Homo sapiens: one gene and its partners. The protein of the gene in region 2 purifies or fractionates together with the protein of the main gene of each other region. This does not show direct contact. Each region holds a gene or a part of one and is shown on either strand. Other genes may lie near its edges. The genes, in order: SCAMP2, SLC19A3, CMTM4, TAMM41, GOLGA5, ABCB1 and ATP11C.

Region 1 (3,500 bases), on a different chromosome or scaffold from region 2:
AACAGTAAGGGACTGACTGTATGTGAGGCTGAACAGACCTGGCCCCGGGGCCCTGCACCTGCTGGCAGCTGCTGCCATTTGGGCCAGGTTCCTCCTGAAGGATGAGACTACAGTCCTTTTTAGGGAGAGATCTCAAACTGGTCATTTCACAGGATGACAAACCAGGCACATGTGTACACACACACATGTATACACACACCAACCTCTCCAAAAGCTCTTCAAAGACCTAAGGCTGACGTGGAGAGCCAAGTTTCAGGCACTGGGGGCGGAAGCAGGAGCAGAACTGACCCCGCTGTGCCACGCTGGGGGTCTTGACCTCCTCCAAGTCTGTGACGCCAGCTGAGAAGGACCCAGCTCCCTACAGCCCACCACCCAGCTGCACAGAAAGGCAACTCCGCATGTAAGGCCTGCCTCACCTCCACAGGGCTCTGGGGCCTGGGAGGGGTGTGGGGCAGGCTCCGGGTGCCCTGCCCTTCCTCCTGCTCATCTACATTAGGCCTACCTTCGGAAGCTTTCGCATGTAGCTGTCTCTGAGAATACTTTCTCCTCCTAGGAGCATCTGCCTCTCTGAGAGCTCGCTCACTGCCAGGAATTGGGCAGGCGGGAACTTGCTGGCCTGTCTAAGCAGGAGCTGCAACACACAACTCCACCATGGGTCACGCTCATAGGGGCAGCGAGGGGTGCAGCGGGAGGGCAGTGAGGCGGCGCAGTGGAGCACCAGGCACAAAGCAGGCAAGATTCACAGTATTTGGTGAAGGGACAAAGGAAGACAGGAAGGAAGGTGAGAATTAATGAAGTTAAAAAAAAGAGAGAGATTCTGGGCCCCAAGGAAGAGAGAACAAGCCAAAGGCCCGAGGAGGACCTGGAGGGGTACAACAGGGACAAATGCCCTCTCTGGAGGCACCGAGGAGCCCGGCCTGGTGAGTAGAGCTTATTTCTCAGTGGTGGTGGTGGGTGGGATGGAGGGAGTAAGGATATTAATTGGCAGAGCAGCCCCTCTACTTGTAGGTGACCAGCTCCGAACAAATTAGCAAGAGGGCCCTTAGGGGGCCAAGGCTGAAAGCTCTCTGCTTGCCCCCAGCCTCAGGGCTCAGCTACTGGTCTGGATGATTCCCTCACTGGAGAGAAAAGGCCAGAGTTCTTTGTCAGCACTACCTGGGGGGTCGGCTGGGTTGGTTCCACTGATGGCTGGAGAACCGCTGGCTGTGAGGACCCAGGGAGTTGGGTGACAGGAACTGTTGTCGCTGCATTTGTCTACATGGAACAAATCAAAAGACAGAATTGAGTGGGACTCCATTAGCTGGTGACGAGGGGGCAAACCCACAGCAGGATGAGTGATGTGCCCCTGCCTGTGAGGGGACTCCCTCGGGGCCTGCACTGGGCCTTCCCCTGTGGCTTCCCAGCCAACAAGCCTCAGGTTCAGGCCATCTGATCCCTAACCCGGCACCCCTGGGCTCGCTGGGTCCAGCACACTTGGGCACTGCCCTGACCTCCTTGGGGAGGGGCCCCGGTCACAGATCCCAAGGGGAGAATTTTACAGAGCGTTTGGTGGCTTTGCCATCCTTACCCTGCCTCCCGGGTTCATGTTAGGACTGTCCCTTTGAGGACTGCCGCTTCTCAGAGCTGCTTCTGTCCTTGCCAAGGATCCCTGCCCCGGACACCCCAGCACCACCCTAGAGGGCCATGGGACTTGGAAAGAGGGCCTGCTCACCAACCTCTGAGAAGGGGTTGAATTCCGCCAGGCCGCCCTGCGGGGCGTTGGTCAGCTGGGTCACAGAGGGATCCTGAGAAGGTGAAAAAAAGCCCTTAGACACAGTGGAGAAAATCCGGGCCAGGGGCCGGCAGGCGAGCCGGTGACGCCTGACTGAAGCAGGGCAGCTGATCACCCTCCCGGGACCCTGAGAAGCCTCTCTGGAAGGGTCCTGTGCCTGCCTCTGCCACACCACAGCTGCGGTCCCTTCTCCCTTCCCCCTTCCTGGAAAAGGTTCAGCCCAGAAGAGACCCAGAGCAAGCTTTACCCAGAAGCTTGAGAGTACACACCACACAGGCTCCTGTTGGTGCCCTATACAGATTCAAAATGGTTCATAGTATTTACCTCTAGGGAGTGGGTTTTTTTTTTTTTTTGAGGGGTGGGGTGCTGAGGGGCAAGTGAATGGGGTGGTGAGGGTAGAGACTTACTATTGACTTTATAACCTTTCTGTACTGTTTTACTTATTATTCATTTATTCCTCTTTTTTTATATTTTTTTATTTTTTCGAGACAGAGTCTTGCTCTGTCACCCAGGCTGGAGTGCAGTGGCGCAATCTTGGCTCACTGCAACCTTCGCCTCCTGGGTTGAAGCGATTCTCCTGCCTCAGCCTCCTGAGTAGCTGGGACTACAGGCGGCCGCCACCATACCCGGCTAATTTTTGTATTTTTAGTAGAGACAGGGTTTCACCATGTTGGCCAGGATGGTCTCAATCTCTTGACCTCGTGATCTGCCTGTCTCGGCCTCCCGAAGTGCTGGGATTACAGGCGTGAGCCACCATGCCTGGCCATTCCTCTTATTTTGTAAAAGACAGTCTAAGGTAGCCGGGTGCAGTAGCTCATGCCTGTAATCCCAGCACTTTGGGAGGCTGAGGCGGGTGGATCACCTGAGGTCGGGAGCTCAAGACCAGCCTGACCAACATGGAGAAACCCCGTCTCTACTAAAAATATAAAATTAGCCAGGTGTGGTGGCGCATGCCTGTAATCCCAGCTACTCCGGAGACTGAGGCAGGAGAATCACTTGAACCCGGGAGGCAGAGGTTGCAGTGAGCCCAGATTGTGCCATTGCTCTCCAGCCTGGGCAACAAGAGCAAAACTCCATCTCAAAAAAAAAAAAAAAAAAAAAAGTAGTCTAAGTTTCTAGAACAAAAACATGCTGCTGGCTGCCAGTACTGATTTTATTAAATCGGGCACACTTGCTAAGAGCAGAGATATGATGAGCTGAGGTGAAAATTCAAGAAAATGTTTCTGGGTTTCGGGGGTTTTTTAAAGTCTTTTCATAAAATCCAAGAATGTCCTCAGAACACAACCTTGTCTCCCTTTCCCATCTGATCTCTGCATGGGGCTCTGCCATCCTCTTTACTGTGCCCCTGCTGGCCTGGAACAGTTGTCTTCACCCTGCCCTGCCCCAAGAAGAGCTCCTCCACACCCTCCCCTTCCTAGTAACAGATGCAGGGCTCAGGTCCAGCTTCACAGCCATGCCTGGGCTCCATGAGGAACAGCCCTGAGGGTGGCCAAATTCAGGGCTGTTCCTGCCTGTGGAGACACCGCTTGGGTTCCACACCTCACCCCACACCCCTAATTATTAAACCAGATGCTCCCAAACTTCAGGCCCAGCCTCACCTCCACTGGAAGCCTCTGCAGAGCCAGTTCTTTTTTTTTTTTTTTTTTTTTTTTTTTTAAGACAGAGTCACGCTCTGTCACCCAGGCTGAAGTGCAGTGGCATGATCTCCACTCACTGCAGCCTCCGCCTT
Region 2 (3,500 bases):
TTCAATTTGAATGGCTTTTATCCAAAAAACAAGCAATAAATGCTGATGAGAATGTGCAACCTCTGCCTCCCAGGTTCAAGGGATTCTCCTGCCTCAGCCTCCCCAGTAGCAGGGATTACAGGTTCTCACCACCATGCCCAGCTAATTTTTGTATTTTTAGTAGATACGGGGTTTAATCATATTGGCCAGGCTGGTCTCGAACTCCTGACCTCAGGTGATCCACCTGCTTTGGCCTCCCAAAGTGCTGGGATTACAGGCGGGAGCCACTGTGCCCAGCCGTGAATATTTTTTTTTAATGCAAAGAAATGATATAATCCTACTTTAACAAAATCTTCACATTTAAAAAAAAGCAACCTAAGATACATGATTCTGATTAAATTAAGACATTTCCATGAAGAAAATAAACATACCAACTAATTGTTTTTTCCTTTGATGATTTTTTCCCAGAGTGCTCATATTTCTGTGTTGTAAATTGTTTATAAAACATTCTTCACAAATTGAAAGCAAAACTTGATGAAGCTTTTGTCTCCACTTCTTTCATGCAATTTGAAATTCAAATGTTTCTCATTTTTTTTGGTTAATAGCAAAGCATATTTTCTGTAGTCAGCTTTAGCTGTACTTTTATATGAAACCGAATGGTTTTTTAATCATTTTCTTAAAGAGATCTCTGAGAAAAAAGTAGAAGCAAAAATGACGGGAAATTCTAAATCCCAGAAATTATTTTTAGAAAATGACTGAAAACTAGATCTGGCGTGGTGGCTCACACCTGTAATCCTACCACTTTGGGAAGCTGAGGCCAGAGGATTACTTGAGCCCAGGAGTTTGAGACCAGCCTGGGGAACACAGTGACACTCTGTCTCTACAAAAATGAAAATTAAAAATTTAGCCAGGCATGGTGGTGTGCACCAGTAGTTTCAGCTACTCAGGAGGCTGAGGTGGGAGGACTGCTTGAGCCCAGGAGATCAAGATTGTGGTGTGCTATGATTGCACCACTGCACTCCTGCCTGGGTGAGACCCTGTCTCAAAAAGAACAAAAGAAAAGAAAAACTGCTTGGTTCCATACACGACTGCAGCTAAAGGTTTCTTGTTATCTTTGCATCTACTTTTTTTAGTATCCAACTTTTTAATAACTTTCCTGAGAATCTTTTGTGTCATAAAAGTATGTGCTTAGAATTTCTCAAGCAAACAAATGAAAGTAGGAATGAAATCTAAACCTAACCATTTGAAAGCAGATCACATCACACTTTATGTAGAAAGTTGCTGGAAATAAACAAATCAAATCCTGACAATGATGCCAGATGTAGTGGCTCACACCTGTAATTCCAGCACTTTGGGAAGCCAGGGCAGGTGGATCGCTTGAGCCCAGGAGTTTGGGACCAGCCTGAGCAACATGGTGAAACCCCATCTCTACAAAATACGAAAAATTAGCTAGGCATGGTGGCACATGCTTGTCATCCCAGCTACTCAGGAGGTTGAGGTTGGGGACTCACCTGAGCCTGGGAAGTCAAGGCTGCATTGAGTCCTGATCGTGATCGCACCACTGCTCTCCAGCCTGGGCAAGAGAGCCAGGCCATCTCTCAAACAAAATAAAACAAAAAGAAAAACCTGACAATGTATCACTGCTTTTGGTCTATAAACCTACAGAGTTTTTTCCCTTGATGACTTAAGGTATATTGTAGCAATATTCAGAGAGCAAATAGTTAAATGAAAAGTTGGCTTAGTTGTGTCTAATTTAATATAAAGCAGTCAACATTTAATATTGCAATTGACTAAAATCCTTCTGAAGTTCTTAGAGAAAGTTTAGAAAGACAGAAGAGAGAGGAATACAGTTCAGTTTTAGGAGTGGTTGGTAAAACTTACACTGCTATGGTTATAAGAAGCATATAGCTGGACTTGAATATCAAATAGCCAGCATAGCACGCCCAGATATTGGCTGTGTAATGCATGAGAAATAAAGAACCGGCATTGACAACTGAGAAGACCACCAGAGCCAGCTCTCCCAGAAGGTCCCAGTTGACTTTCACATAACCCACTGCAAAGGCAGCCACAGCCCCTGAAAAAAAACATTGAAGGCAATCAAACATAATGACTTTGCATGCAGGAAAATATCAACACCCTCTCTTAAAAACCCAGGTCTCGGGTAATTCTGAAAGATAAATATATTGCTTTCACAAAATTGTGTGATCGACCTGAATGTGGATCTATCCTTTTCTCAAGCGTGTCTTCTTTTGGCTTTTCTTTTCACTTGCTATTCTTTCGGTCACTTAGTCACCATACTTTTAATTAGCATCAACTACACGCCAGACACTGTATTCTGCAGAGGGGCCAGAAAGGTTCCTAACCACAGCAGTGTAAGGAGAAATGATACATTAACCTAGTCACTCAGTACAACATGCAGGGATGGAAAAGGATGAAATAAATTCTCTGGGAATACACTGGCCTCTCTATTTGCCTTTCTTTTCTCAGTTTTTGCTGTAAGTCTTTTTCAGTGATGAGTATCAGATGTGTTACATTGAAAGTTTTAGTCTTTTTTCTTGCCCTACCCAGTTTTAGTCTTTATTATGAACCTTTAGTAATCTTAGTCTTATTTCCAATCTCCACTCTAAAGTCTTCAACATCTGACATAATTTACTTGAGAAGCTTTGGGTGAAAATATCTATATAGACTTACAGAGTTCAAGAAATTGAAATAATTGACAGTAATTAGGGTTAGCACTTTTGTGTGGTTCTCTTTAACAAAGGTAAAAGGTATTTAGGGCTGGGGACAGTGGCGCACTCCTGTAATCCCAGCACTTTGGGAGGCTGAAGGGGGTGGATCACTTGAGGTCAGGAGTTAGAGACCAGCCTGGCCAACATGGTGAAACTCCAGCTCTACTAAAAATACAAAAATTAGCCAGCATGGTGGCGGGCACCTGCAATCCCAGCTACTCAGGAGGCTGAGGCAGGAGAATCACTTGAACCCTGGAGGCAGAGTTTGCAATGAGCTGAAATCATGCCACTGCAATCCAGCCTGGGTGACAGAGTAAGACTCTGTCTAAAATAAATAAATAAACAAAAGGTATTTAGATTTCAAATTACTACATTGACATATGACTAACTTTCCCACATGTGATCATGACCACAGAGGAAAAAAAAAATAACTATTTTTCCCCCCATGGATTTGGAATGTAGGAGCAATAATTTCAGTGAAGCAATTCTGGCACAGTCCTGGTTTCCAGGAGTTAAACTGAAGCTTCCCAAAAGGGAGATAATAATAAAATAGAGGTCACACGGGTTTTCTAAAACTTTTTGTAAATGAGGGTGGGGCGAATTCTCACTTCCTAAAAAATATCTTCAAAGTCTCATTTGACATTTAAGCTTCCAGTTACTAGGAAATAAACATTTATTGTAGATTAAACTTCAAAGACAGATTTCCCTCTGATATTAAAATCCTGACTTTCACATCTCTTCCAGCCCTCATTTAAATACCATGAGAAAGCTGCTTTTGAAAGTTGTTGGTGT
Region 3 (3,500 bases), on a different chromosome or scaffold from region 2:
TCTGCCCGGCCGCCCATCGTCTGGGATGTGAGGAGCCCCTCTGCCTGGCTGCCCAGTCTGGAAAGTGAGGAGCATCTCTGCCCGGCCGCCATCCCATCTAGGAAGTGAGGAGCGTCTCTGCCCGGCCGCCCATCGTCTGAGATGTGGGGAGCGCCTCTGCCCCGCCGCCCCGTCTGGGATGTGAGGAGCGCCTCTGCCTGGCCGCGACCCCATCTGGGAGGTGAGGAGCGTCTCTGCCCAGCTGCCCCGTCTGAGAAGTGAGGAGACCCTCCGCCCGGCGGCCGCCCCATCTGAGAAGTGAGGAGCCCCTCCGCCCGGCGGCCACCCCATCTGAGAAGTGAGGAGCCCCTCCACCCAGCAGCCACCCCATCTGGGAAGTGAGGAGCGTCTCTGCCCGGCAGCCACCCCGTCCGGGAGGGAGGTGGGGGTCAGCCCCCGCCCGGCCAGCCGCCCTGTCCGGGAGGGAGGTGGGGGGTCAGCCCCCCGCCCGGCCAGCCGCCCCGTCCAGGAGGGAGGTGGGGGGTCAGCCCCCCGCCCGGCCAGCCGCCCGGTCCGGGAGGGAGGTGGGGGGTCAGCCCCCGCCCGGCCAGCCGCCCCGTCCGGGAGGTGAGGGGCGCCTCTGCCCGGCCGCCCCTACTGGGAAGTGAGGAGCCCCTCTGCCCGGCCACCACCCCGTCAGGGAGGTGTACCCAACAGCTCATTGAGAACGGGCCATGATGACAATGGCAGTGTTGTGGAATAGAAAAGGGGGAAAGGTGGGGAAAAGACTGAGAAATCGGATGGTTGCTGTGTCTGTGTAGAAAGAAGTAGACTTGGGAGACTTTTCATTTTGTTCTGTACTAAGAAAAATTCTTCTGCCTTGGGATCCTGTTGATCTATGACCTTACCCCCAACCCTGTGCTCTCTGAAACATGTGCTGTGTCCACTCAGGGTTAAATGGATTAAGGGCGGTGCAAGATGTGCTTTGTTAAACAGATGCTTGAAGGCAACATGCTCCTTAAGAGTCATCACCACTCCCTAATCTCAAGTACCCAGGGACACAAACACTGCGGAAGGCCACAGGGTCCTCTGCGTAGGAAAACCAGAGACCTTTGTTCACTTGTGTATCTGCTGACCTTCCCTCCACTATTGTCCTATGACCCTGCCAAATCCCCCTCTGCGAGAAACACCCAAGAATGATCAATAAAAAAATAAAATAAAATAAAATAAAATAAAAAAACACAAGACGAGTCACGCCCTAGGGCTCAGGGCTCAGCCAGTGGCCCCTGTGGGTAACTGCCAACTGTTCTCAACCCACCACAGCACCCAGCCTGGGTTCTGAGATAGAGGCCTAAGAGGCCTCCAGGGCCACAGAGCCCACTAAGAAAGGGTGACCAAAGCGGAAGAAGAAAAACAGGACAGTGTGGGGGCCCAGGATGCAAGGTGAGAGAGTATGGCAGGAAGGACAGAGTGCCCCATAGCAGACACCACCAGGATGTTGAGTGGGGTGAGAACCCAAGAGCAACCAGAGGATCTAGGAACACGGAGGCCCCGTCCCAGGCTCCTGACCAGGGGACTTTCAATGCTGCCAGACTGGAGTGGGCTGAAGATGAATTGCGGAAGACCACCACATAGTCAGGATGGTGGACTGGGGGAAGGGGCAGGGGGTGTGTTTAGCTGGAAAATACACATGGGAAGCTTTTGGGGTGTTGACAATCTCCTATTTATTGACCCAGGTGGTGGCTGTATATTAAACTCCATATTTACTTTCATAATTTTTTCAGAATTTGACAATAAGAGATTAGAAAAGTGAGATTAGGAGAGGGGGAAGTAGAGAAGGCAAGTGCAGACCTCCTCTTCTGGGAAGTGGGGCTGAGCTGGCCCTGGGCTCTGGGGCCAGTTGAGTGGGAGCCACTGGCAGGCTTTTGGGATGGGGGAGGATCAGACACGCCTTTTAGATAGCGCCACATCCCAGAAGGGAAGGGGAGGAAAGGAGGAGCCCCGTGGCACTAATCAAAGTAAACAGGGGTGGAACATGTGAGTGTATGAGCTCCTAGGACACAGAGAAAAACAAATATCGCCAGGCACGGTGGGTCACGCCTGTAATCCCAGCACTTTGGGAGGCTGAGGCGGGCAGGTCACCTGAGGTTGGGAGTCCAAGACCAGTCTGACCAACATGGAGAAACCCCCTCTCTACTAAAAATACAAAAAAATTAGCCGGGTGTGGTGGCACATGCCTGTAATCCCAGCTACTCGGGAGGCTGAGGCAGGAGAATCGTTTGAACCTGGGAGGTGGAGGTTGCGTTGAGCCAAGATTGTGCCACTGCATTCCAGCCTGGGCAACAAGAGCGAAACTCCGTTTCAAAATATATATATATAAATATATATATATATAAATATATATATATAAATATATATATATATCAAAGTCCCACAATCCATCCAAAAATAAACCCAAACCAAAAACTTGACATTAACAGAATCATTCAAATTCCATCAAATTATGCTTGTAGAAAATTATGCACTGTCCTCCTTATTTATCATTTCTCATCCATATTTATGTCAACCTGGGCTCCTGGAATGACCTGTGTTTTTAAATCTATACCAATCACACCCTATTTTAACCATCAGGCTGGCTCTGCTGGAGACAAAAATACTCCCAATACTCCCACCACCTTGTTACAGAAACACAACACAGCCAAGGCCAACCCTTCTGTAGCGAGTTGATGAGCTGAGATCGGCCGTGAGGAGCTCACTTTTTCACCCCTCTCAGAGAACACTGGACATGAGCTGCCTTTAATAGATACCATCTTGGCAGGGTGCAGTGGCTCACGCCTGTAACCTCAGCACTTTGGGAGGCTGAGGTGGGCAGATCACCTAAGATCAGGAGTTGGAGAACAGTCTGGCCAACGTGGCGAAACCTCGTCTCTATTAAAAATACAAAAATTAGCTGGGCACGGTGGCACATGCCTGTAATCCCAGCTACTCAGGAGGCTGAGACAGGAAAATCACTTGAACCCGGGAGGCAAAGGTTGCAGTGAGCCGAGATCGCACCACTGCACTCCAGCCTGGGCGACAGAGCAAGACCCCATCTCAAAAAAAAAAAAAAAAGGTACCATCTCCTCAAGTTCATGTAAGGTATATGCCCTTTTGTTGGGCAAACACACAGCCTTTATCTGCTCCAAAAGAGTGGAAAGTCTAGAACGGATCCCAAAGAACAGGATCGTGTTCTCAAGTGACCACATCACCAACACCCAACCACAGGCCCAGGCCACCACCACCCAGAGGAAAAGAACGAGTATCAACTTCCCTGGGGAGAGATGCACCTCAACATGACCGGTGACATGGTAGTGTGGTAGTCAACAAGTGGAAAATCTTTCATGATTAAAATAGAAAAAGCAGAATTCCAGAAAGCTCACTAAATAGGTATTTCTGGGCTGGGTGTGGTGGCTCACACCTGTAATCCCAGCACTTTGGGAGGCTGAGGTGGGTGGATCACCTGAGGTCAGGTGTTTGAAACC
Region 4 (3,500 bases), on a different chromosome or scaffold from region 2:
GGCTAATTTCGTTTGTGTAGCGACAGGGGCTCGCTGTGTGCTTCTGCTGGTCTCGAATTCCTGAGCTCAAACGATCCTCCCGCCTCGGCCTCCCCGAGTGCTGGGATTATAGGTGTGGGCCACTGCGCCTGGCTGCCTCCAGCATCTTATCTCATTAATAGTCAGTGTTCAGAAAATGATTGCTGTTATTATTATTTTTATGTATTATTGTTGGTCAGATGGGTTTTCCTCAGGTTGAGAAACTGTTATTTGCTCAATCATCCAGTGATTGATGGACACTTATATTAGCTCCATTTCTCACTGTTTTATTAGCAACACTGCTGTGAATCACTTTGTACAGATTACTTTCGTTGGGAAAGGGGCAAAGGAGGCACTGACTTCCTTGGATGTGTTCTCCAAAGTGGAATTATGTTGTCAGCTATAAAAATTATAAAACTTGTTACATATTGACAAACAATGCCTGTCAAAATTTGCAGGGTGCTGTGGCTCACACCTGTAATCCCAACTTCCAGGCTGCAGTGAACTATGATCACACCACTGCACTCCAGCCTGGGCAACAGAGCCAGACCCTGTTTCTTAAATTAAAAAAAAAAAAAATTAGCTGAGTACTTAGATCAGATGGATTGAAACATGACAGCCCCATTTCATCTGGCCGGTTAAGGTCCTCATGGAATGAAAAACACTTTCGGGCACTCTCCTATGAGAGAGAGAATGGGTTTCTTTAATTGCCAGATTGTCTGAACACAGCCTCAGCTACTTCTAGGAATAAGACGAAGCAGTGAGGAAGTTGCCAGTTGAGTGATTCTTGGGGAAAAAAATTAGCATTCAGTGCCAGCTCTCTAAAGTGTGGATTCTGGATTCTGGTAGAAGCCAGTAAAGAAACGTTTTCTCTGGAGTGGAAGCTAGTAAGATTTATTCTGTGGTGATGAAGCCATCTGAAACCTTACAAGCAGTGTGGTTGTATCAGCATATGGGAGCTGACTGCCTCAGGACTTTGGAAGCCTGCTTCTCTGTGCCTCAGCCGGAACTCAGGTTACTCAGTAGTCATTTGCTAATTTCTGAGAACGCAGCACTCCTGAAGGGATAGAAAGCATGAACAATACCCAAACTTTTTAGACTAGTACTGTGTGTCAGGTATTGTAACATTCATTCAGTCCCTGAAATGTACAAACTAGTTATTGCTCCCCTTTTTCATTTGAGGATACTGATGCCCAGATAAGTTAAGTGGCTTGCCCTGGGTCACATAGCTTGTAAATGCCGAGCTAGCATTTGAACCCAGGCAGTCTTCTTCCTGGAATGCTTGCTCTTAACACTTCACTGTTCTATGAAAGGTCTTTGGTGGTGGGCGTCACTCCTGGTTCACACTTAGGTCACTCCTTCCCCAGGACCCACTGGGTCACACCTCCCCTCCCCACACCCACCCCAGTGGGCCTCAGTTCTGGCTTATCATGGAGGCCTTCCCTGACTGCTACTGCAACTCCACCACTCCCTATGTCTTTCCCTGTTTGTGTTTTCCCCATAGCACTTTCCACAGTCGGCTACACTGTATCTTATTGTTGGTTGGCTGGCTGATCTTTGGTCTTTGTTCCACCACTGAGGATGTGGAGGGAAGGAATTGTTGTCTTGTTTTGCTCCTTCTGTTTGGATGCTTCCAATAGTATGTGACATGTACTAGGTGCTCAGTAAATATTTGATGAGTGGATTATACTGCTTCCTTCCTGAACCAATATAGTGAACCTGAGTCCTCCCTATTACTTCCTACTTTTGTATTTTCTAATGTATACAAAAGGAAGGCCAGGCATGGTGGCTTACGCCTGTAATCCCAGCACTTTGGGAGGTGGAGGCGGATGGATCACTCAAGGTCAGGAGTTCGAGACCAACCTGGCCAACATGATGAAACCCCATCTCTACTAAAAATACAGAAATTAGCCGGGCGGGCGAAGGTTGCAGTGAGCTGAGATGGTGCCACTGCACTCCAGCCTGACAACAGAGCGAGACTTTGTCACAAAAAAAAAAAAAAAAAAAAAATTAGCCAGGCATGGTGGCACACACCTGTAGTCCCAGCTACTAGGGAGGCTGAGGCAGGAGAATAGCTTGAACCCAGGAAGCAGAGGTTGCAGTGAGCTGAGATCATGCCACTGCACTCTAGCCTGGGTGACAGAGTGAGACTCTGTCTAAAAAAAAAATATTTACAAATCATGCATCTGATAAGGGACTAGTATCCAGAATATATAAAGAATTTTTAAAATACAATGGATAGGCCGGGCGCAGTGGCTCACGCCTGTAATCCCAACACTTTGGGAGGCCAAGGCTGGTAGATCACTTGAGGTCAGGGGTTCCAGACCAGTCTGGCCAACATGGTGAAACCCTGTCTCTATTGAAAATACAAAAAATTAGTTGGATGTGGTGGTGTGCACCTGTAATCCCAGTTACTTGGGAAGCTGAGGCAGGAGACTAGCTTGACCCCAGGATTCGGAGGTTGCAGTGAGCCGAGATCATGCCACTGCACTCCAGCCTGGCGACCGAGTAAGACTCTGTCTCAAAAAAAAAAAAAAAGCCGGGCATGGTGGTACACACCTGACCTGTAGTCCCAGCTACTAGGGAGGCTGAGGCAGGAGAACAGCTTGAACCCAGGAAGCAGAGGTTGCAGTGAGCTGAGATCATGCCACTGCACTCTAGCCTGGGTGACAGAGTGAGACTCTGTCTAAAAAAAAAAAAAAAAAAAGTAAAAAGGCAGCTAACAAAATGGAAGAAAATGTTTACAAATCATGCATCTGATAAGGGACTAGTATCCAGAATATATAAAGAATTTTTAAAACACAATGGAAAGGCCGGGCGCAGTGGCTCACGCCTGTAATCCCAACACTTTGGGAGGCCAAGGCTGGTGGATCACTTGAGGTCAGGGGTTCAAGACCAGTCTGGCCAACATGGTGAAACCCTGTCTCTACTGAAAATACAAAAAATTAGTTGGACGTGGTGGTGTGCACCTGTAATCCCAGTTACTTGGGAAGCTGAGGCAGGAGAATAGCTTGACCCCAGGAGGCGGAGGTTGCAGTGAGCCAAGATCATGCCACTGCACTCCAGCCTGGGCAACAGAGCAGGACTCTGTCTCAAAAAAAAAAAAAAAAAAACAACAACAACAACAAAACAATGAAAAGACAATCCAGTTTAAAAACAAGAGAAGGATTTGAATAGCCATTTCTTCAGAAAAGGTATTCAAATGGCCAGTAAGCACATGAAAAGTTGTTAAACATCATAGGTATTAGGGAAATGGAAACATCAATACAAATCACAGAGACGCCATTCTATACCTGCTACAATGGCTGTGATAAAAAAGAAAGGCAAGAACAAGTGTTGAGAATGTGGAGAAATTGGGACCCTCATACATTGCTGATTAGATTGTAAAGTGGTACAGCTGCTTTGGAAAAAAGCCTGGCAGTTCCTCCAAATGTTAAACATAGCTACCATATGACCCAGCAGTTCTACTCCTATATATCTAC
Region 5 (3,974 bases), on a different chromosome or scaffold from region 2:
CACTACTGTTTTTATTATTATTTCTATTTTTATTATTTATTATTACTATTTCAAAGTAATAATAAATTACTGTTTTTATTATTACTATTTCAAAGAAGGGCAAATCTTTTTTTTTTTTTTTTTTTTTTGAGACGGAGTCTCGCTCTGTCGCCCAGGCCGGACTGCGGACTGCAGTGGCGCAATCTCGGCTCACTGCAAGCTCCGCTTCCCGGGTTCACGCCACTCTCCTGCCTCAGCCTCCCGAGTAGCTGGGACTACAGGCACCCGCCACCGCGCCCGGCTAATTTTTTGTATTTCTAGTAGAGACGGGGTTTCACCTTGTTAGCCGGGATGGTCTCGATCTCCTGACCTCATGATCCACCCGCCTCGGCCTCCCAAAGTGCGGGGATTACAGGCGTGAGCCACCGCGCCCGGCCGGGCAAATCTTAATGTAGCAAAAGCATCTGTTATGGGCTGAACTGCATCCCTCCAAATTCCTTTATTTAAGTCCTAACCCCCAGACCTCAGAATGTGACTGTTTTTGGAGATAGGATCTCTAAAAGGATAATTAAAATGAGTCGTCAGGGTGGCCCCTAATCAAATATAATTGGCATGTCCTTCTAAGAGGAGGAAATTTCAACACAAACAGGCATACAGAAAGGACAGAGGGAGAAGGCAGACATCTGCAAGCAAAAGAAGTACGCCTCAGAAGAAACCAACTCTGCCAATACCTTGATCTTGGACTTCAAGTCTTCAGAACTGAGAGAAAATAAATTTCTGTTGGCCCAGCCAATCAATCTGTGGTACTTTGCTACAGCAGCAAATTAAAACAACATCCAAACAGCAAATAACCAATATGGCAAAACTCCAGTACAACCAAATAAAAATAAAATTCACTGAAGTTTGTTTTAAAGTGCTAAAACTTGAAAAAACGTTTCCGTTAAATACAAAAGCTATCTTAATGTTAAACTGCAGCACTATTACATATAATTTAGGTGTGCACATAATTTATCTAAAGTACATGTTCAATAATTCACATACTCAATACCTACCATGTGCACATTAAGCTAAGTCCAGAATAAAAACCAAAATTGCATAACCACTCATTCCATACATATATTTGAGTACTTATTGTGTGCCACAATACATCAAAGTAATGATGAAGATATAGATACAGAAGGGCTCTATAATAAAGTCCACAACCATTTCTAGAATGTGCACGTTGTTCCTTTTGCCAAGAACTCTTTCATGGTTAACTTTCTTGTTCTTGGTCTTCACTCAAATGTCATTTGCTTCAGAGTTCTCCTTTCCAGCTAAGTTAGGTCAATCATTATCTGTACATACCCTATTCTTTTGCTTCACAGTCCTTCATGTTTTATAATTACGTATTTTTTTAACATGCTTCTTGTTCTTGGGGAAAGTGGGGCAGTGGCTGGATAAAGATTATGTCTGTTTTGCTCACCAATGAATTCCCAGAGTCTAGCACACAGTAGGCACTCACAAATACTGCTGAGTGGAATTTTTATATGACTGATGCTGTACACAGGTACACATGTATCTTTTATCACATGTAATTTTCACAGCCACGTTATGTGGTAAACAGCAATATCCTTTTTTTAAAGCAAATGTGGAAAGGGTTTAGAAAGATCCCAGAGTTTAGACAGCAGCTCAGATACTCAAGTCTAAGTTACCCTAGTGCCAAACCTACTTTTAACCCTTGCCTCCCTATACCATACAGCTCAAAATCTAAAAAACCTCAAGAAGAAACTCATCCTTTAAATCTGTTCTTTACACATGTGACTATTAAATGCCTATGTATTTCGGAGTTTATAAAAAATCAAATGAAAATGGAGATGAAATGCTCTGTAACATACAGAACACCATACAGGCCAGGCACTGTGGCTCACGCCTGTAATCCCAACACACTGGGAGGCCGAGCGGGGAGGACCACTTGAGGCCAGGAGTTTGAGACCAGCCTGGGCAACATGGCAAGACCCTGTCTCTACAAAAAAAGTAATAAAAAATCAAAACACGCTCATTAATTCTTTATATCTTGCCTCCCATTTCAAAATTAATTGGGCTTTAAAACATACCATGCAACTGCTACTAATGTTGCAATTAATGTCGATTACCTAATTAAATACTTAGATGGGCCCTGGGCAAACATCTCAAAGACACGAAGGACTTCAGAGGCACCCGTCAATTCCCCAGACACTGCCCAGGGGCAGAGAGTGCGTGGGATGGGGATGGGTCTGCAAAGGGCTGCGGCAGGGCCTGCTTCGAAGGCCAGGCGTCAGCACAGAGGGAGGGAGGCTGGAGGTCAGTCGGTCAGGCCCAGTCCGTAGAGCCCTGGGGTCTGTCAGTTTGGGGAATCTCAGGTAAGCGAGCAGAGACCCCCACTCTGCTCCCCACCCATCTCGTTCCGTGCGGGAAGAACGGCCAGGCCAGGCAGGGGTCAGGAGAAAGGAAGACAGAGGAGGGCAGTAAACGACGTCGGCTGAAGCCCAAGGAGTCTCTCCAGTTACCCTCCTCAGCCCCTAACAGGGCGAAGATGAGCGCGACCCGAAAGAAAACGGAGAGACCAGGGTCTCCACTGAAGGGACTGCGCCCCCGCTCCTAGGACCGTTAACACCCCCGTCTCGTCCAGTGGGCCCTCGCCTCCGCCTCACCTGAGGACTCCGGAGAGGCTGCACTACGGCCTAGCCGCCGTCCTGGGCCGCGCCCCCTCGGCGGCTGGCCCGGAGGGGGCCCAAGCTGAGTAAACCTCCTCCCCGACCCGCCGGGGCCCTGCTACCGCTTCCGGGAGACGTGGAAGGGAAGCGAGGACCCCACAACAGAGTGGCTTTCGAGCTGCCTGCACGGCAGGGAGACGCGAACAGCCACCTGCAGGCGACTCAGGCGGTGGCGCTGGCGGCTACGGGGTCCTCGCGCATGGCCACGCCCCTTTTCCGCCCGCGGCGAGAACAGGCGCGGCGCATGGCCTGCGTGCGTGTGACGTGGCTCGCCGCCGGTGGACGGCCCGCACGCCGTGAAAGGCCACACCCACAAAGGGCGGGGCCTTACTGCGGGCCACGTGGGTGACCAAAGGCGGTGCCCAGCCTGGAAGGAACGCGAGGCCTGAGTTGGGCGGGGCTTGAGACCCGGGTGGACCGGCTAGACCTCGTGTTTCTCCCTTTCCTCACCATCTCCCCTAAGTTTTACAGACGAGAATGCCAGAGGTCCACGGCAGAAGGTGGAAATAAGAAAACATGATCCGGATTGCATGGCGCTTACTTTCTAGTGGCAGAGACAGATATTACGTAACAGTGAATGGACAAGACAATTTCAGGGCGTTACCAGAGTTGTAACGACAAGAAAACGGGGAAAAGTGACTGGAGGCACGGGAGGTACTTTAAATCAGGTGGTCAGGGAAGGTCTCTCTGAGAAGATGATATTTGAGCTGAGACCCAAAGGATGGAAAAGGCAGTATTGTGGTTATGTTATGCATACAGTTCATTGACTATCTGAAATAAGTCTAAAATCCACATTCACTAATTCAAATACTCAGCACCCACTATGTGTACAGGATTGGGCTAACTTGGCCCTAATGACAAGCCTACAACACAGTTCCAAGTCTCAAATCTTTGAATTGAGGAAAGTAAGGTTCAAACAGTTTAAATAACTTGTCTAAGATCATCTGTCCTAATAAGGAGTCCACATTACTCCAAAGCCTATTCCTCGTAGACTCAAAGCTTTATTGTCTCCAAATTAAATATTGGAAGTAATTACAGCTCCTGCTTTTATTGCTCTCAGGTGAGGTTTAGCCCAGTACGGTGAAGAGAAAAATTTTCAGCAGCACCAGGAGGTGGTAATCATAATAATGGCATCTAACATTTATCAAACCTTTTATTAAGTGTAGAATACTGTGTTAAGCATTGCATGTGCCTCACTTCATTTTAATCTCACATGCATAAGGAAGGTACTATTATTCTCTGGTAGGTGGTATTGTTGTTCCT
Region 6 (3,500 bases), on a different chromosome or scaffold from region 2:
AAGGAGGGATACTAGGAGATGAAAGAGCAGTTGAGAGAGTAAAGTCTTGACCAGGTGTGGTAGACAGAATAATTCTCCCCCCACAGCCTGTCCAAATCCTAATCCCAGGAACCTGTGAATATATTTCTTTACATGATAAAAGGGACTTTGCAGATTTAAAAGATCTCCAGATAGGGGATTACCCTGGATTATCTAGGAGAGCAAATGTAATTACAAGGGTGCTTATAAGAGGGAGGAGGGGGCCTGGAGTCAGTAGGAGATGTGATGATTGAAGTAAGAGGTTGGAGTGATGCAAGGAAGGGCCTGTGAGTCTAGAAATGCAAGTGTCCTCTAGAAGCTGAAAAAGGGAAGGAAACAGAGCCTCCAGAAGAAATGCAATCCTGCTGATACCTTGACTTTAGCCCAGTAAAACTTCGATTCCAGAACAGTAAGGTAATAAACTTGTGTTGTTTTAAGCCACTAAGTGAGTGCTATTTTCCTACAGCAGCAATAGGAAATGAATACACAATGTCAAAAGAGGGATGATAAAGAGGCAGGGCAGAGCTGGAAGGAATCACAGGTTGTGGTCAAAGACTGATACACGTGTGTGTGTGTTTATACCTTCATAGAGGAAAGCTCACCCAGACAATAAGCCCAAGATCCTGTCCACACGTGCAATTTACTAAGGTACTCATGTAATTTATGGAGCGTCGTTGTTGGAACTGAAGCAGTCAGAGAATGTTGAGACTTATTTGTAAGGTCACCAAAATACTCAGAAGAATAACAGGAACATAAGGTGAATGAAGTAGAAGCAATCAAATGCCAAAGTCCTCAAGGAATGGGGGTGGGGGTATACTTCGAGGATACCACCGAAAATAGATAGAAGATAGTATAATTATGCAGAATGAAACTCAAATGACAAAGGAGTTTGCATGAGAATAAAAAAAATTTGAAAATGGCTTTGTGGAACTATAGGAATGTCCACATCATCTCTGACTCCTGTGATAAGGGGTTGAGGAACTTAACTTTACAGGCGAGGGCAGCACAAGAAAAAGCCAAAGAGCTGGAGGAAAATCAGCAAACCGTGACATAACAGAAGCAAATACAAAAAATATAGGAGAAAGTCTAAGTGCTGCTGAGAGATCAAGATAGAATTTTAAAATGTCCACTGAATGTAGAGAGAGACAGGAACAGGAGCCAAACTTCAATAGGTTGAGAACTAAGTCAATGGCGAAATCAAGACAGAACGCAAAGGCCACTTTTGTGTGTGAAGGGAGCTGGCAGGGGTGGCTCCATGAAGGGCATCAGTGCCTTGATGTGTCAATGCCAATGGGACAGATCCAGTTGAGAGGGAAAGATGGAAGATACAGAAGAGAATGAGTGGTAATAATGATGTAAGGTCCCTGAGAAGGCAGAGGAGATAGGAGCCAAAGTATGAATGATTAGTCTTAAGACTAAAACTCTGTCATAACTGGAAAGAAGGAGGAGGAAACAGATTCAGACACAGGTAGGTTTTTATGATTATTGCAGCTGTGAAGCTCAAGGAGTGATTATCCATATAACCATAAAAGTCACCCAAGTTGGTTGGAGCACCAAAGTGGAAAGGGAGGATACTGAGCCAGGTGGCGTAGTCTTTGATGATGAGATGGTCATAAGATCAAAAGATAGCAGCAATAAAGAACTCTTCAATTCCAGAGAGATAACAGTTTAACCAGTCATAAATGATTACAGTTGTTAAAAGCAACTGGGCATATCTGAGTCTACCCTGCTTAGTAGCTATGTGACCCTGTGATTTTGAATGCATTACTTAACTTCTCTAAGTCAAGTTCTTCATCTGGAACACAAGAATAACACAAGTTCCTAAATTGCAGGTACTTATGTCCCTATATGAAGATTATGTCACACAATAAACATAGGGTATTTAACAAATGCCTGGTACAAGGGAAACACTTAACATTGTTAGGTATTATCTATTTAGAAAAAAATTAATGTTTCCCTAAGACACACATAATAGAAAGCTCAGAGTTCAATCTACAGTGCACAATTCTTGCAAGAATATATAATCTTTTTTTTTTTTTTTTTGAGACAGTGTCTCACTCTGTCACCCAGGCTAGAGTGCAGTAGCACAATCTTGGCTCACTGCATCTCCACCTCCTGGGTTCAAGTGATCCTCCCACCTCAGCCTCCCGAGTAGCTGAGACTACAGGCATGTGCCACCATGCCCAGCTAATTTTTGTACTTTTCACATAGACAGGGTTTTGTCATGTTGCCCAGGCTGGTCTTGAACTTCAGGGCTCTAGTGATCTGCCCACCTTAGCCTTCCAAAGTTCTGGGATTACAGGCGTGAGCCACAGCACCTGACCAAGAGTGTATAATCTCTAAGAAGTTCATTTTGTGTAGAAATTACAGCCCAGCTCTATGTGTCACATTTCCTCACTTGCTTTAGATTTTATTCTACTTTTGTGTTTCTGTAAATGTTGAAACAAGGTCTGATATAAATTTAAAAGGCTAGTATAGAATTTTGAATCTATTCCTTACTTCTTTCATCACTTTTTTAAGATTGCTAAAAAATCTCATAGTGGAAATAAATTAACAGACATTGTGTGCAGACAAGAGCTAACACAGCAGCTCTGAGGCTGCCATGTTTAGAAAGGCCTGTATACAAAGGTTGGCCCTTGGCTGGAACTTGGATTTGGGGAGGATTACCACCATTCTAACTGATAAGTATGGCCAAACTATCTGTACAAACAATATGATTCTTCATTCTGCAGTTCTGCCTTCCTTCTATGAGTCTGAAATTTTGGTGCATGCTGGGTAGGTGCCTACATGATCAGTTCCTAATAAAATCCTTGGGCACTGAGTCTCTAATGAGCTTCTCTGATAAACAGCATTCTACAAGTGCTGTCTTAACTCATTGCTTGGGGAAATTCAGTGTGCCCTGTGACTCCATTAGGAGAGAACTCTAGGAGCTTGCACCTGGTTTCTTCTGGACTTCTCCCCACTCGCCTTTTGCCATGGCTGATTTTGCCTTGTATCCTTTTGTTGTAATAAACATTAGCCATAAATCCTCTGGGTCCTCCTAGTCTGAATCACTGAAGCTGGGCTTCTTGGAAACCCTGAACACACAATGTTTTTTGTCTTCACTGAAAACTATTATTAATAAGCAATGCCAGTGACATCACCAATATATTGTTAAACTTTTATTATGTTCTTGTGTTTATAAGTTTTATATTGAAGTTACATTCAATGTTTTCTATGTTGACTTTTCAGGAAAAAGATGTGAGGAAAATCTATCTAAGTAGTAGAGTACTTCATCAAGAGACTTAGAATATATTCTCTCTATCCTGGCCCCATTGTACATCCTCAGACAAGTGAACATGTCTGGCTCCAGTTTCTTCATGTGTAAAACTGGAATAATAATAGTATCTTTCTCAAAAGGAGTTGTAAGGATTAAATGAGATTAAATATGAAATACTTAGGACAATGCTTGGCACACAGTGCTTTATGTGTGCTATTACTAC
Region 7 (3,500 bases), on a different chromosome or scaffold from region 2:
TTTCTTTCTGGCTGGAAGGAATTTTACATGCAACCAGTTATTTTTCTACTAGATTATTCTGTTAACTCTCCAATGGTACTGCATTAAACAAGCCTCTCTACTGTGGCTCTCTTGTCTGTATTCACAGTTCCCATAGATTTTATGTAAAACAGCAATCATAATACAGCAACAACAACCATAAGAACAAGAAAACAAACACAAAATATCAAAAGCTTTCCTGGGTTAGACTTTTTTAGCTCTTTGGAATAGGCAAAGAATATAGAGACTTTTGTTTTCAGCAGCTTACCTCAAATACGGGCTACCAGAACACAGCACACTTAGGTAAGTTGTGAATGACATGTAACAAAATGCTCAAAAATAATACTGATATATGAGAGCAAATGAAATAATGAAAAAGGGTCTATAATGATGGAATGGCTTCTGATAACTGAAATTATGTTCTTTTCTAGAATTTAGAAAAAAATCATACCTAAACATTAACACAAAATATATGTGGAAGAATCAAATGTGCCATATGGACTATATAAATATAATACAGATTAACTCCAATACTTTTCCAAATCAAGGTACAATATAAACATTAATAATAGTACAGGCATGCCAGAAAGACAAAAAAAAAACAAAAAAACTAGCAGTCAAATAAATATGGTCATTTATATCCAAAAAAGTATGTGTTTAACATTGAATGAAGACATTTCACATTTATGTTTCAAGTGAACTAATTAGAAGGCTAAACCTTCCTTCTAGTTCAGTTAGTCAAGGACTTTACTAAGGTCAGTTACATGGTTTAGAGTTAGACCATTTCCCTGTCCAAGTTAAGAGACAACATTCATCTTCACAGAGTCATGGCTCTACAAGCTGAACCACCGTTTTGGGGTGGCTCCTTCCCCCTTTCCAAATTGGCCAAGTTTAAGAAAAAGCACTGCATATATGCATAAATGCAATCTCTTTCAAATAAAAACCGTCAAAAGTTTAAAATAAGCTATATTTCTTCCTCTTCACATAAAATTATAAAAGGCTGATATTCAGAATGACCTTTATTTTTATATAACTATGGTTTAAACCACCTTACTGCAGATCCCAGTAAAATCAACACTGGAAAAATCTGTTTATTTTCTAACTACTTTGAGGGGCTACTAAGTGATTGGAAATGTTTTATACTTTATTTTCAAGTCTAGTAGGCTTACACCCATAAGTGGGGTTTAATTCAGAAGAATAAAAAATAAACAATTTTTTTCTATTCCCACAAAAATACCCGTAAGTTAACACTTTCCACATAAGCGTTCAAGGTATTTTTTTGGCAAGAATATTCTACCAAGACATTAGTAGCACATGGGTAAACAGAAGGGATTAACTATTCTGTCTGATGCATTGATACTATTTAGTTATTCTGTATTTTCAAGTATTCCTTATGTACTTGGGAAAAAAAATTAAGATGATCATTTAGGAGGAATGAGAAATGTGATCCAAATAGTCTATTTCTTCTGCCAGGCAAAAAAAGTAGTATTAGCAAAATCTATTCATTCTCATTGCATAACTTCTACTTCATACTATTGTATTTAAATCCATTCACAAAGTTCATGGGTTAAAAGAGCACCCATTTGAGTTATATTACTCTAACTAAAGCCAGAATTCTAAGTATTCTTGCTTTCAACTTTCATATAATTCTTAACTTACAGCTTTGGCCATAAAGGCTACTTACAATAATGGTAAATGCTTAAGAGAATCATTTGGTATTTTAATGAACATTTATTGTGAACTCTAGACATGAGAGTGGTTTAGTGTGTTGCGTATCAAGTATCCTGAGATGATAACTTTTTGTAGTTGTTTCTTCATGCTTTCTTTTTTAGCTGTAACCACTGTCAGTATGCTTGTAGGACAATAACATAGGCAGTTCAAGATTCGGATTCTGAAAAATGTAAAATATACAGATTTAAAAGGCTTATTTTAATAATGTGAAACCATCTGTTAAGCATTTTCAGAAATAAGTAGTAAATTTTGTTATGAGAGTAAAGCAACTGTCTTAACAAAGTGCCAAGTTTTATTCACATGCAGGGGAAAAAAAGAGTGACACTATAACCAGATTTTAATCCTTTCTTCATTTGTCAGCTGAATAGATTCAGGCTTGCTTTTTGCTTTTGGATTGTTCCAGGGTTCTCCTAATACTTTCTACCTCTGGGATTATTTACCATAGCAGAGGTTTAGCTTGCTGTGATCCCTTCTCCTCTAGGCTGGGAGGTCCTTGAAAACAGGAACATTTTATTTACCTTCTATCTCCAGCAGCTAGTAATAGTGTCTGGCACACAGCAGATACTCAGGAAATGTTTGATGAATGATTAGATTGCTGTTTTTCTTGATGTGTTAATTTTGACAGAGGAAGTCTGAAGATATATTCAGCTTTGGAAGATTATTGTGAAAATATTCTTCCTTTTTACTGAAAGAAGCATATTTCCCCCCTACAATATGGAAGTTAATTTTCCTTTTGGTAGATCATGTATCTATGAGTCGATTGATTCTTCTGTTTTTTCTTATGCTTCATCTTTTTGGAAGAGAAACCACGGATATTTCCCTATCAAATCTGTAGATTCTTCTCTGTCCTCTAAACATCATCAAATGCTATGATCAGGATGGTGCATGACAGACAAACTGATCATTAAGTGTAAGTCAAGTATGTTAAGAAATGGAAGTCATATGTCAAAACAGGGAGCCTGATTCTCCACTCTAAAACTCAATCTTTTTGAACCTGAGTAGTGGAAGGTCTTAAGTAGTATGCTATTTTCTTCCCATTCTGGGACACCTCCTTTGCCATGGCTGGACTAGAAGCTCATTAGAATACCTTCCATTTCTATTTATGTTCCACATTCTCCAGAACCACTAGTAGGTTTTCAGGTAGCTCTGCAGGGTCATGGTGACTCTAACCAAAATAAGGTTGCCATTCATACTGAGAATGTAACTCACATTGAGGAGTTAGGTAGTTTCCTTACCAACCAAGGAACAAACTAGATGCCTAAACTAGCTGCTAATTATTGTCTTTGGAGGAGAAATAATGCCACATGAAAATCTATTCCTGGAAGAAATAACTACATTAAAAATAAGACAATTGTTTTTAAAAAATACTTCCTCAGTTCTATGTTAGACATTGTAGGAGATAAGGCCCTGGAGAGGCCAAAAGCAACAGCAGTGTCTTCTATCCAGCCCAGTCCCCCAAACCACAGACCAAGCTAAAGAGAGCAATCCAGGGGGATACAAAATTAGCCAGAAACAATATAGCTAAAATGCATCACACAGCTTAGAACGAGGCAATCTGGGACAAAGGGGTCAAAGACCTTGAAGGTTACTTGTGAAGCAGATTCATTACTAAGGGAAAACATACTCAGGTAAGTTGTTCAAAAATGGGTAAAAAGATGCTAACTGTGGCAAAATGAGTCTGCTTCTAAAATAACAGTGCAGATGTAGACTGCGATGAACTCCAGGAAGACAGAAGAACCAATGGAGTCAAT

The links.
Region 1: the proteins of SLC19A3 (region 2) and SCAMP2 purify together in Homo sapiens (affinity purification with mass spectrometry; one large-scale study listed by BioGRID and IntAct). This does not show direct contact.
Region 3: the proteins of SLC19A3 (region 2) and CMTM4 purify together in Homo sapiens (affinity purification with mass spectrometry; one large-scale study listed by BioGRID and IntAct). This does not show direct contact.
Region 4: the proteins of SLC19A3 (region 2) and TAMM41 purify together in Homo sapiens (affinity purification with mass spectrometry; one large-scale study listed by BioGRID and IntAct). This does not show direct contact.
Region 5: the proteins of SLC19A3 (region 2) and GOLGA5 purify together in Homo sapiens (affinity purification with mass spectrometry; one large-scale study listed by BioGRID and IntAct). This does not show direct contact.
Region 6: the proteins of SLC19A3 (region 2) and ABCB1 purify together in Homo sapiens (affinity purification with mass spectrometry; one large-scale study listed by BioGRID and IntAct). This does not show direct contact.
Region 7: the proteins of SLC19A3 (region 2) and ATP11C purify together in Homo sapiens (affinity purification with mass spectrometry; one large-scale study listed by BioGRID and IntAct). This does not show direct contact.

What each region holds. Positions count from the first base shown.
Region 1 is NC_000015.10:74,852,866-74,856,365, forward strand, and holds part of SCAMP2 (secretory carrier-associated membrane protein 2), read right to left. Parts: intron 1,785-3,500; coding exon 1,716-1,784; intron 1,255-1,715; coding exon 1,156-1,254; intron 632-1,155; coding exon of another isoform or gene 503-631; intron 1-502. UniProt on the Homo sapiens protein: Functions in post-Golgi recycling pathways. Acts as a recycling carrier to the cell surface.
Region 2 is NC_000002.12:227,694,029-227,697,528, forward strand, and holds part of SLC19A3 (thiamine transporter 2), read right to left. Parts: intron 2,054-3,500; coding exon 1,861-2,053; intron 1-1,860. UniProt on the Homo sapiens protein: Mediates high affinity thiamine uptake, probably via a proton anti-port mechanism. Has no folate transport activity. Mediates H(+)-dependent pyridoxine transport.
Region 3 is NC_000016.10:66,630,744-66,634,243, forward strand, and holds part of CMTM4 (CKLF-like MARVEL transmembrane domain-containing protein 4), read right to left. Parts: intron 1-3,500. UniProt on the Homo sapiens protein: Acts as a backup for CMTM6 to regulate plasma membrane expression of PD-L1/CD274, an immune inhibitory ligand critical for immune tolerance to self and antitumor immunity. May protect PD-L1/CD274 from being polyubiquitinated and targeted for degradation.
Region 4 is NC_000003.12:11,822,886-11,826,385, reverse strand, and holds part of TAMM41 (phosphatidate cytidylyltransferase, mitochondrial isoform a precursor), read left to right. Parts: intron 1-3,500. UniProt on the Homo sapiens protein: Catalyzes the conversion of phosphatidic acid (PA) to CDP-diacylglycerol (CDP-DAG), an essential intermediate in the synthesis of phosphatidylglycerol, cardiolipin and phosphatidylinositol.
Region 5 is NC_000014.9:92,793,131-92,797,104, reverse strand, and holds the start of GOLGA5 (golgin subfamily A member 5), read right to left. Parts: upstream 2,801-3,974; 5' UTR 2,649-2,800; exon of another isoform or gene 2,112-2,648; intron 1-2,111. UniProt on the Homo sapiens protein: Involved in maintaining Golgi structure. Stimulates the formation of Golgi stacks and ribbons. Involved in intra-Golgi retrograde transport.
Region 6 is NC_000007.14:87,590,885-87,594,384, forward strand, and holds part of ABCB1 (ATP-dependent translocase ABCB1), read right to left. Parts: intron 1-3,500. UniProt on the Homo sapiens protein: Translocates drugs and phospholipids across the membrane. Catalyzes the flop of phospholipids from the cytoplasmic to the exoplasmic leaflet of the apical membrane.
Region 7 is NC_000023.11:139,727,054-139,730,553, forward strand, and holds part of ATP11C (phospholipid-transporting ATPase IG), read right to left. Parts: intron 1,910-3,500; coding exon of another isoform or gene 1,847-1,909; 3' UTR 1-1,846. UniProt on the Homo sapiens protein: Catalytic component of a P4-ATPase flippase complex which catalyzes the hydrolysis of ATP coupled to the transport of aminophospholipids, phosphatidylserines (PS) and phosphatidylethanolamines (PE), from the outer to the inner leaflet of the plasma membrane.